3 linked regions of the Homo sapiens genome follow. The protein of the gene in region 2 purifies or fractionates together with the protein of the main gene of each other region. This does not show direct contact. Each region holds a gene or a part of one and is shown on either strand. Other genes may lie near its edges. The genes, in order: BTF3L4, CAB39L and GBP1.

What was found.
Region 1: the proteins of CAB39L (region 2) and BTF3L4 purify together in Homo sapiens (affinity purification with mass spectrometry; one large-scale study listed by BioGRID and IntAct). This does not show direct contact.
Region 3: the proteins of CAB39L (region 2) and GBP1 purify together in Homo sapiens (affinity purification with mass spectrometry; one large-scale study listed by BioGRID and IntAct). This does not show direct contact.

Annotation. Positions count from the first base shown.
Region 1 is NC_000001.11:52,062,671-52,066,328, reverse strand, and holds part of BTF3L4 (transcription factor BTF3 homolog 4), read right to left. Parts: intron 1,505-3,658; coding exon 1,391-1,504; intron 1-1,390.
Region 2 is NC_000013.11:49,350,001-49,353,658, reverse strand, and holds part of CAB39L (calcium-binding protein 39-like), read left to right. Parts: intron 1-2,746; coding exon 2,747-2,915; intron 2,916-3,658. UniProt on the Homo sapiens protein: Component of a complex that binds and activates STK11/LKB1. In the complex, required to stabilize the interaction between CAB39/MO25 (CAB39/MO25alpha or CAB39L/MO25beta) and STK11/LKB1.
Region 3 is NC_000001.11:89,058,698-89,062,355, reverse strand, and holds part of GBP1 (guanylate-binding protein 1), read left to right. Parts: intron 1-2,031; coding exon 2,032-2,159; intron 2,160-2,929; coding exon 2,930-3,039; intron 3,040-3,312; coding exon 3,313-3,515; intron 3,516-3,658.

The sequences.
Region 1 (3,658 bases), on a different chromosome or scaffold from region 2:
TCCCAGCTACTCTGGAGACTGAGGCAGAAATTTCTTGAGCCCAGAAGGCAGATGTTGCAGTGAGCAGAGATCACACCACTGCACTCTAGCCTGGGTGACAGAGTGAGATTCTGTCTTAAAAAACAAAAAAACAAATGGAATCATCAGGCAGAGGTGCATCTAGGTGGTAACATCACAAGTAGTTGTTGTTATTTATTAAGTATCTTCTGGAATAACATTAATCTTTGGTCTCATATTTGAGAAAAATAGTGTCATCAAAATACAATAAACTGACATACAATTTTTTTTTTTGAGACGGATGCTCACTCTGTCACCCAGGCTGGAGTGCAATGGCACAATCTTGGCTCACCGTAACCTCCGCCTCCTGGGTTCAAGTGATTCTTTTGCCTTAGCCTCCCGAGTAGCTGGGATTACAGGCATGTGCCACCACAGCTAGCTAATTTTTGTATTTTTAGTAGAGACAGGGTTTCACCATGTTGGCCAGGCTGCTCTTGAACTCCTGACCTCAGATGATCTGCCTGCCTAGGCCTCTCAAAGTGCTGAGATTACAGGCGTGAGCCACTGCACCCGGCTGACTAATACATTTTAAACAATTTTTGAAACAGTTTTAATAAGAAATCTAACCCATGTAAAGCTACTGCTAAAGCCTTTTGGCTGAGGTAGTAACTAATGAGGCTCTGTAAAATATACAGGTGCATTAGGGTAAAAAAGTCTACCTCTATTGAGCCATGAGTCCAAAATCTTAAATAATAAAAAAAAGTCTGGCCGGGCGCGGTGGTTCACACCTGTAATCCCAGCACTTTGGGAGGCCGAGGCAGGCGGATCATCTGAGGTCAGGAGTTTGGGACCAGCCTGGCCAGCATGGTGAAACCCCGTCTCTACTAAAAACACAAAAATCAGCCGGGCATGGTGGCACGCACCTGTAGTCCCAGCTACTTGGGAGGCTGAGGCAGGAGAACCGTCTGAACCCGGGAGGCAGAGGTTGCAGTGAGCCAAGATCGTGCCATTGCATTCCAGCTAGGGTGACAGAGTGAGACTCCATCTCAAAAAAAAAAAAAAAAGGTCTATCTCATCTGAGGAAATGTTGGGGTTTATTTCTACATTATTAGAGACATATTTTATATTAATATTCAAGAACACTTACATAATTTTGCCATATACGCAAATATCTTGAGCTTGAAAAGTATGATGAAAATCCTTAACTGTCTACTAAAATTATTTTTTTGACCATCATTTAATTTCATACAAAAATCAAAGTGCCACAGTCCTTCAAAGACATCAGAGTGACAATATCAAAGATTTTTCTAAGCTGATATTTTACATCTGAAAGGTCCAGACAATTATTTGTGCATGTACCCACACAATTTAACAACTTGCAAAGTGATCATACCTCTTCAATACCAGCTATATTATTCACAGCCAGTTTTTTTAGAGAACTCTGAAGCTTTTTGTCATCAGCTGTGGCTGTTCTATGTACCACCTTCTTCTTTCTGCGAGCTGTACCCTGAAAAATAACCAAACAGAAGCAGAAGTGTTAGCATGCCTGGCATCTGGCAACTGCAATCACATCTTACGTATCACAATAATCTAAAACCCACATTAAAAAATGGACAAAATAATAATGATTAATGTTATAAGACTTCTCAGAGGTTGTGATTGTCAGCCTAACGCAGATTTCTAAAGGTTGGTTCTAGCCAGTTCCTTTTTTTTCCTTATCAGCTTTTTCAGGTTGAATTATTCTTATCTAATATCCAGCCTTTGTCATTTCAACACAAGATACTGTTTGCTAATAAAACATAATTTATAACTTCAAGACAATTTAAATACTTTATAACAATTTTAAAACATTATCTTTTCTTATAGTAACTACCACCCCCTGCCAGTAGTCTAAAGATATTCTGAAATTTGGGGAATTAGGACATAACTGAAAATTAATGTCTACATTACAGTAGGAGGAAAAAAATCAATAAATATATAAACAAATCAGATAATTTCAAATGGGATTAAGTACTATTAAGAAAAAAGCAAAACTAGAGCACAGCAAGAATGACTAAGTAGGGGCAAAGCAATACTTTATTAGAAGGTCCAGGAAAGCCCCCTCTGAAGAGGTAACATATGAGTTGAGACCCATAACTAGGGCAAGAATGATCAAAGCAGAATGAAACAAGGTTGAACTTGTCCTTTCTAGAAGAGAGAAAATGGGCCAGTATGGCTAGAGCAGAGTGAATAATGGGAACGGAAGAGGAATATGAAATCAGAAAGATAGGCAAGGACCAGATTATGTAGCCTAGAATGCCATGGGCAGGAGCTAGATTTTATTGATTGCAATGGGAAGCCATTGAAAGGTTTTAAGCATGGGAGTGACTTGATCTGATTACTTATGACTGAAGTTGCTATGTAGAAAATGGATTATAAAGAGACCAGTCAGGAGGCTCCTGTAGCCGTCCTGGCCAGAGATGAGGGATATGGCAGTGAAGATGGTGAGGGGTCAGATTCTCACAAGAGACCACATGACTTTGCTGATGGATTACACGTGGGATATGAGAAAAAGAGGACATTTGGATGATGCTTAGAATCTTGGCCTGAGCAAACAGGTTGAAAATTATACTAGTTACTGAGAAAGAAAAAGTTCATTTCTAAATTGATACTGTGAAACTCTAAATACATTTTTCCATTGAAATACTATTTAAAATAATGGATTCCTGGATCAGTTTATTAAGTCTTGAGGGTTAAATCTTTCTAAAACTGGTAGGAGTAAGGAGAAAGGAATAGTGGTTTCAATCTCTGGGTAGCTCCTATAGTAGTACTCAGGGAATCAGCCTTATAGAGGTAAGGTAGGGGCTTCAGTCTCAGCAATTCCGGTGGGAGTGGAGGAGAGATCTGACAGCAGAGGATGCCTTGAAATCTAGTTGCTGAAGGACTGACTATTTACATAGGCACTCATTTGTGAAGCATTCCTGACTCAGGGATAGCTCAACTGCTTGGTGCTTGTTCAACTCGAATGATCCTCAGGCACCTCAAATTCAATATGTCTTAAAGCTTATCAGTCCACCAATCTATTCTTATTTCCTAACTTTTGTAGCTGGTGGTACCACCATATACTCAAGTCTCTAAAATCATGAATCTGAGGGTTATCCTAGATTCTTCTGCATGCCCTTTACCCCCCATATCCCATCAGTCACTAAATCGTGTCAATTCCAACTCCTAAATTTGTATCCCATATAATAGAGGTCCCCAACCCCCAGGCCACTGACCAGTACCAGTCTGTGACCTGTTAGGAACACGGCAGCACAGCAGAAGGTGGGGTAGGGGGCATGAGCGAGCATTACTGCTTGGGCTCCACAGCCAGTCAGATCAGCGGCAGCATTAGATTCTCATAGGAGGGCGAACCGTTGTGAGCTGCGTATGCGAGGAAACTAGGATGCGCACTCCTCATGAGAATCTAACTAATGCCTGATGATCTAAGGTGGAACAGTTTTATCCCAAAACCATCATCCTCCCATCCGTGGAAAAACTGTCTTCCACGAAACCAGTCCCTGGTGCCAAAAAGATTGCGGACTGCTGCCTTAGACTCTAGCAATAGCGTCTCAATTGTTCGCCTATAGGCCAAACTTCCATTTTGTTCCATTTTCCACAACGCCAGCAGCTACCTTTCTAA
Region 2 (3,658 bases):
AGTGTGAAGGGCAGAAAGAATAATCCTGAATTGTAGTGATTAGGAAAGGCTTCAAGGAGGAGATGGCATTTGAACTAAGCCTTGAGAGATGAGAAGCATCTGAGTTGTGGGAATGTAAGAAGGGCATTCCAATTGAGGGAATGAGGGGCTCCAGGGAAATAACGAATGTGATGGGAGATGAAACTGAAAAGTTAAGGTTAGGGCCAAATTACAAAAATCCACATATATCTTGCTGATCAATAAGTCTGGATTTTAATTGTCCTTCCCTTAGATTCTTTCTCTAGGCCAACAGCCTTTATTTTATACTCTCTTGAGTACTCTATCAATAAATGACAGTGCTTTTCTCCTTTACATTTCAGAACATATACCCCTCTTTACAACATCTTTAATAAAACCCCACCTGACAACTGTTCCTTGTGAGCCAATAGGCTGAGTTTCAGGTTTTTCTAATAAGAGAAATTGCTAGCACTATAAATTGGCATTCCTTATATTCTACAAAGAATCATGACTATCTGAATGTATCAGCATTTAATGTTACTATGAGTTATTCAGGGAATACTCAATATTTGTGAATATCATTCTGCATAAACAGGACAAAAATGAATAAATACCACCCTGGTATCTTTGTTTGCTGTTTCTTCTACTAATATTTGTAAATTTGATATTGGAAAGTAGTCTATTTCCTCAATTGAATCTTTATTCTTGAATCTGTCTTTCATGAAAATTCTATAATCTTATAAAGAGTAGTACATTACTTATTGTTCAACAAATGTTGTTACTAGTAGTTGATGAGTAATAAAATATCTTAAAGTTTTATAGTATCATAAAAGTTCCATAAAAACTAGTATTCAGTTGAAATGGTCAATGATATCTCTTTAAAAATATGGTCAGATTTTATTTTATTTTATTTTTATTTTTGGAGACAGAGTCTCGCTTAACTTTCCAGGGTCAAGCAATCTCCCACCTCAGCCTCCTGAGTAGCTGGGACTACAGGCGTGTGCCACCATGTCCAGCTAATTTTTTTAGTTTTTGTAAAGTCAGGGTCTCAGCTAAATTTTTTATTTTTTTATTTTTTGTAAAGTCAGCCATGTTGCCCAGGCTGGTCTCGAACTCCTGAGCATAAGCAGTCCATCCACCTCAGCCTCCCAAAGTGCTGGGAGTACAGGAGTGAGCAGTCACGCCCCACCAGATTTTTTTTTTTGGAGGGGGCCCTATATTCTGCTCACTTCCCAGTGTATCACAACTATATCTTTCTTTGTTCTATTCTTCCTATATTTACCACACAATTGTCAACTGTATTATTTCAATACAGGGCTTGTTGTACTTGGGCTAAGCATTATTCATTTTCTTGAAATCTTATCACACACTGGAATATATCTTAAACTTACTTAGAGACTGAATTTGACTTTGAGAGATTGTTGTTGTATTAGAAATGGAACCAATCTGGTATGCCAGTCCTGAATTGTTTCCCACAGTAGACGTTTCGTTTGTCTAGCATATTTTTTGCTGTGAGCCATGATTCCACTTAGGATTTAAGTGAGTCAATCAGTCCACAGCTATGTATTAGCCACCTACTGCATGCAAATCATATATTTATATAGGTCTCTCCTATCTTTTTCCTAAAGTCCAGATAAGTGTATCATACTGCCAAGGAGACCTTTCTACTTAGATATCAGCCATCTCAAAACTAATGTGGTCAACCACAAACTCTTAATTTCTTTACTAACTTGTTCCTCTACTAGTTTATTCATCTTAATAAATAGCACCACCATCTACCCAGTGATTCAAGCCAAAAACATAGGAATCATTCGTGAATTCTCAGTTTCCAAATTTATTCCCTCACCCAACTCCAGCTACATCATCAGCAAGTCTTGTTGACTCTTCCTCCGAACAGTATCCACCACCTGCCCACAGTCCTCTGTTCTGCTCCTGCCACCCCAGGCCAAGCCCCCGTTCCCTCTCCTGGGTTCTGCTCCTGTTCTTATATGTCTCCTGCTGTTTTACAGACATTCTCAACAAGAAGCCAGAGTGATCTTTTTAAAGCATAAGTTAGTCTTGTCAATTTCTTGCTTTAAACTCTCCAAAGGCTTCCCATTACACTTAAAATAAAACCAACTGCTTACCTTGGCTGACAAAGCTGTATCTGATCTGGGATCTGGCCCCTGCCCTTCTCTCCACCCCTGCCTCATTTCACACCACTCACGGTTCTTCCTCTACAATCGAATCACACAGGCTTTATTCCTCCTTCTCTGTTTCGCCAAGCCTGTTCTTGCCATGGAGCCTTTGAACAGTTTTTTCCCTTTGCCTGGAACATTTTGCCTTTTCCTTGAGTCTAAAGTAAAGTAACTTAAGTAGTCACTCACACACACACACACACACACACACACACACACACAATTTAGTCACCTTTATAATGTGGCGTATTTTATTGTCAACAGTTTTTACAGCCCTTCTCAGTGTATGAAATTATCTTTTCATTGTTTACATTCTGCCTCATCCCCCCACCCCCAGCTGTCACCATGTTCATATTTGAGTATATCTAAGTGTTTCAGAATACACTCAAATTCCAGAATACGTCTGCAATAGTGCCAGGCACATAGTAGATCTTCAGTGGATATTGAATGAATCGTGACAAATGGTATGTATGCTTCCATTAATAGCAGTATTGAAATGGTTCTTTTGATGCCATTAATATTATTTTAATAGGATAACAGAGTTCTCTATTTCTCTCTTGTTTACGCTTTAGATATGAAGCCCCACAGATTGCCTTACGTTGTGGGATTATGCTGAGAGAATGTATTCGACATGAACCACTTGCCAAAATCATCCTCTTTTCTAATCAATTCAGAGATTTCTTTAAGTACGTGGAGTTGTCAACATTTGATATTGCTTCAGATGCCTTTGCTACTTTCAAGGTAATTTTTTTTTTCCAACTCAGCTAGGTCAATTTATAGTCACTTGGCCCCTGAAGAGGCAATTTAATTTTAAAAAGCAAGAAATTTTACTTCTTAGGCCTCAGTGTAGCCAACCATGTATGATGTGGATCATAAGAGGAATCTGTAAATAGAATGCAGTCTATGAGGCCAGTCTGTCCTATTGCAGGAAAACAACTCAAAATATTTGTCACAAGCTCAAATGGAGTGAATTCCAGTATATACAGTTACGTGGGAAAGGAATATGTAGTGCTCTGTGTGTGGCATGCTGTCATTTATGTTAAAAACAGATTAAAGGGCATAAGCTTCCACTTAAGGTACATATGCACTGAATACCTCTGCAAGGATGCATAGGAAACAGCAACAGTGATTAATTCTGGGGAAAGGAACTAGGTAGTGAAGGGAGATGGAGAATTACATCTTTGAATATGAAGGACATCATGTTATTTTATGAATGAAATTTTTAAATGTCCACATGGTGAAACAAAATAGTAAGAAATTATATTGTCGTTGTTTCATAATCATCTATAGTTTGATCATGTATTATCTACTTTGTCACTATGTAGGAAATCGTAGGATGCAATATATTCACATTGTTAGGCAACCAACTACCAGAACTTTTTTATTTTGAAAAATTCAAACTCTACCTCTATACTTATTAAATAATAACTCCCCATTTCCTCCTCCCTCCAGCCCCTGACAATCATTTTACTTTTGGTTTCTGT
Region 3 (3,658 bases), on a different chromosome or scaffold from region 2:
GTGTTAGCATGTGTCAAAACTCTTCCTTTTTAAGGCTTAGTAATTGTACGTGTATACTAATTTGTTTATCTCTTCATCTGTCAATGGACACTTGGATTTCTTCCACCTTTTGTCTATTATAAATAATGCTAATAGGAACATGGGTGTCTGAATATCTGTTCAAGTCCCTGCTTTCACTTCTTTTGGGAATATACCCAGAAGGGGAATTGCTGGCTCATGCAGTCATTGCATGTTAACTTTTTTTAAGAAATCACTATACCATTTTCCACAGTGACTGTACCGTTTTACATTCTCAACAGAAATGCACAAGGGTTCTAATTTCTCTACATCCTCACCAACATTTTTTATTTTCAGTGGTTTTTTTTTTTTATAGTGGCCATACGAATGGAAGTTAAGTAGTATCTCGTTGTGGTTTTGATTTTGATTTCCGTAATGACTAGTGATGTTGAGCATCTTTTCACGTGCTTATTGGCCACTTGTATATCTTCTTTGGGAGAATGTCTATTCAAGTCCATTGTTCATTTATTAATCTGGTTGTTTATTTCTGTTGCTTTGTAAATTTTTTTATATTTTCTAGATATCAATCCCTTATCATATACATGTTTAGAAACCATTTTCTTACATTCCGTGTGTTGCCTTTTTTAACTCTGTTGATAGTGTCCGTTAATACACAAAAGTTTTAAATTTTGCTGAAGTCCCACTAATCTATTTTTTCTTTTATTGTCTATAGTTTTGGTTTCTTATTCAAAAAATAATTTCCAAATCCAATATTATAAAACTTTTACCCTTTATTTTCTTCTACAACTTTTATAGTTTCAACTCTAATGTTTGGTTCTTTGATCCATTTTGAGTTCATATTTGTAAGTTATAAGGTAATAGCCCAACTTTTTAAGGAGATATATCATTTCCTCAACATCATTTGTTAAAGAGACTCTCCTTTCTTCATTAAATGATCTTGACACCCATACTGGAAATCATTTGACCATATATATCAGAGTTTATTCATGGGCTGTCTTTTCTATTCTATTGGTTTATATGTCAGTCTTTATACCAGTACCACACATGGTTTTGTAATACGTTTCACAACTCAGAAACTGTGAGACTCCAACTTTGCTCTTCCTTTTTATTTTTATAATTAGGGGATCTCTGGAAATTTCATATGAAATTTATGGTGGATTTTTCTATTTATACAAAGTAATTGGAATGTTGGTAGGGATTATATCAAACCTGTACATCACTTTGGGTAGTAGTGACATCTTAAGAATATTAAGTCTTCCAATCCATAAACACAGGATGTCTTTCTAATAACTTATGTCATCTATAATTTCTTTAAAGGGTGTTTGAAGTTTTCACTCTACAAGTCTTCCACCTGCTTGGTTAAGCTGATTCCTAAGTAGTTTATTCTTTTGATGCTGTTAAATTGGATTGTTTCCAAAATTTCCTTTTCTATTTTTTACACTAGCAACTGATTTCTCCATATTGACTTTGCATGCTGCAACTTTGATGAATTGTTTTAATAGTTCTAATAGTTTTTTGTGGGATAGTTAATGTTTTCTACAAATTAGATACTATCATCAGCAGACAGAGATAATTTTACTTTTTCATTACCAATTAGGATGCCTCCTTTATGCTTCTCTTGTCTAATTACTCTGGATAGGACTTGCAGTGTTCTGTGGAATGCAATTGACAAAAGTAGGCATCCTTTTCTTGTTCATGATGTTATAGGAAAAGCTATGACGTTTCATCATTAAATGTGAAGTTAGCTGTGGGTTTTTAATACATGGCATTTATTATGTTGAGGTGCTGTCTTTCTATTTCTACTTTGTTGATTATTTTTATCATGAAAGCCTCCTGAATGTTTCCATGCATTGGATATTCAAATTTCCTATTTCTTTGATTGTAAGTACGTAAGGTGAATACTGATTGTTGTTTCAGTTCTCTCTCTTAACCTTAAATATACTACTTTTTCCTTCAATTGCCAGAACTGCCTGTTACTAAATCCCCATCGCTGGTCTCCTCTCTCCCTTGCAGGCTTCTCTCTGGGCTCCACGGTGCAGTCTCACACTAAAGGAATCTGGATGTGGTGTGTGCCCCACCCCAAGAAGCCAGGCCACATCCTAGTTCTGCTGGACACCGAGGGTCTGGGAGATGTAGAGAAGGTGAGACTCAAGGATCCAGTTGTGGAGTAAGCCCCTCCTCTCTGAATATTTTATGCAGCGGTTAATTGTTTATTAACTATTAACTACAGGCTGTAATATGTGTGGGTTAACACAGATGCATAAAGGGAGCACAAATAATCCCAGTGTCATAAGTCTTATCCTGCACAGAACTTTAGTTAAGAATTTGGGTGCTAAAGCCATGTGACTTTGTATTTAAATTTAAATTCTGTCACTAATTCAGTAGCCTGAGAAAATTGACTTATTTTCGCCTCAGCATTCTAATCTTTAAAATGTATGGAAAAGACCTATGTTGGCCATATAGTATTATTTTGAATATTTAATAAGATAATACATTACAGGTGTATATTAATTATTCAATAAAATAGCAACTAATAGTACCAATCTTATATGTGAATTCTGTTATTGAAAAAAAGAAGAGAAAATTTTAAATTTACATTGTACTCAGGCCTTAAAATGCCCACCAACCTTGAATTTTAATTTTACAATTATCTGTTGATGATCATTAGAAGACCTAGTAAGAATCATGGTAACCCAAAAACACTCGTCGAAAAACTACCCAAAAGCCACATCCTACTGAGAATAATTTTTGTATTTGTCTTCCTTTAATAGGTCATTAGTGTTAAAAAAAAAAAAAAAAAAGAAAAGAAAAAAAAACCCTCTAACATATGAACATAGTTTTACTACTGTTACTCTGAAAAGTGCTGCGATGATGAAACTTGCTCCTGACTCCAGTGTGTCTTGACTTCCAGGGTGACAACCAGAATGACTCCTGGATCTTCGCCCTGGCCGTCCTCCTGAGCAGCACCTTCGTGTACAATAGCATAGGAACCATCAACCAGCAGGCTATGGACCAACTGTAGTATCCTTTTGTGACCCAGAACAGCACCAAGGTCAGAGGGGACACCTGTATTCATACACCAGCTGCCTGACTGTGAATCCTGATGAATCAAGCTCAAAAGGAGAAAACAAAAAATAATGCAAGTACAGAGGAGAGATCCCATGTATCCACTTTAGAACTGACACTGACACTTAGGTTAGGAGCAAAGGAAAATGGAAGGTTTGGGTATGTGTTGAACTAACATGGGATGAGGTCCCTGTTCATTTTGTCACATTTCCTTAGTTAGCTACTCAGCTATGTGACAGAGCTGACACATAGAATCCGATCAAAATCCTCACCTGATGAGAATGAGAATGAGGTTGAGGATTCAGCTGACTTTGTGAGCTTCTTCCCAGACTTTGTGTGGACACTGAGAGATTTCTCCCTGGACTTGGAAGCAGATGGACAACCCCTCACACCAGATGAGTACCTGACATACTCCCTGAAGCTGAAGAAAGGTAACAGAGAGCTTCAACTGATAAATGAGGATGAGAAAACACAAGAAATTATCATTTTTCAGTTTACTATTGCTAGTTTTCCAGCATTTGCAGTTTTCTATGTCTTCAGCTGGCTATTCCTAGAAATTAATACTTGCTGAATA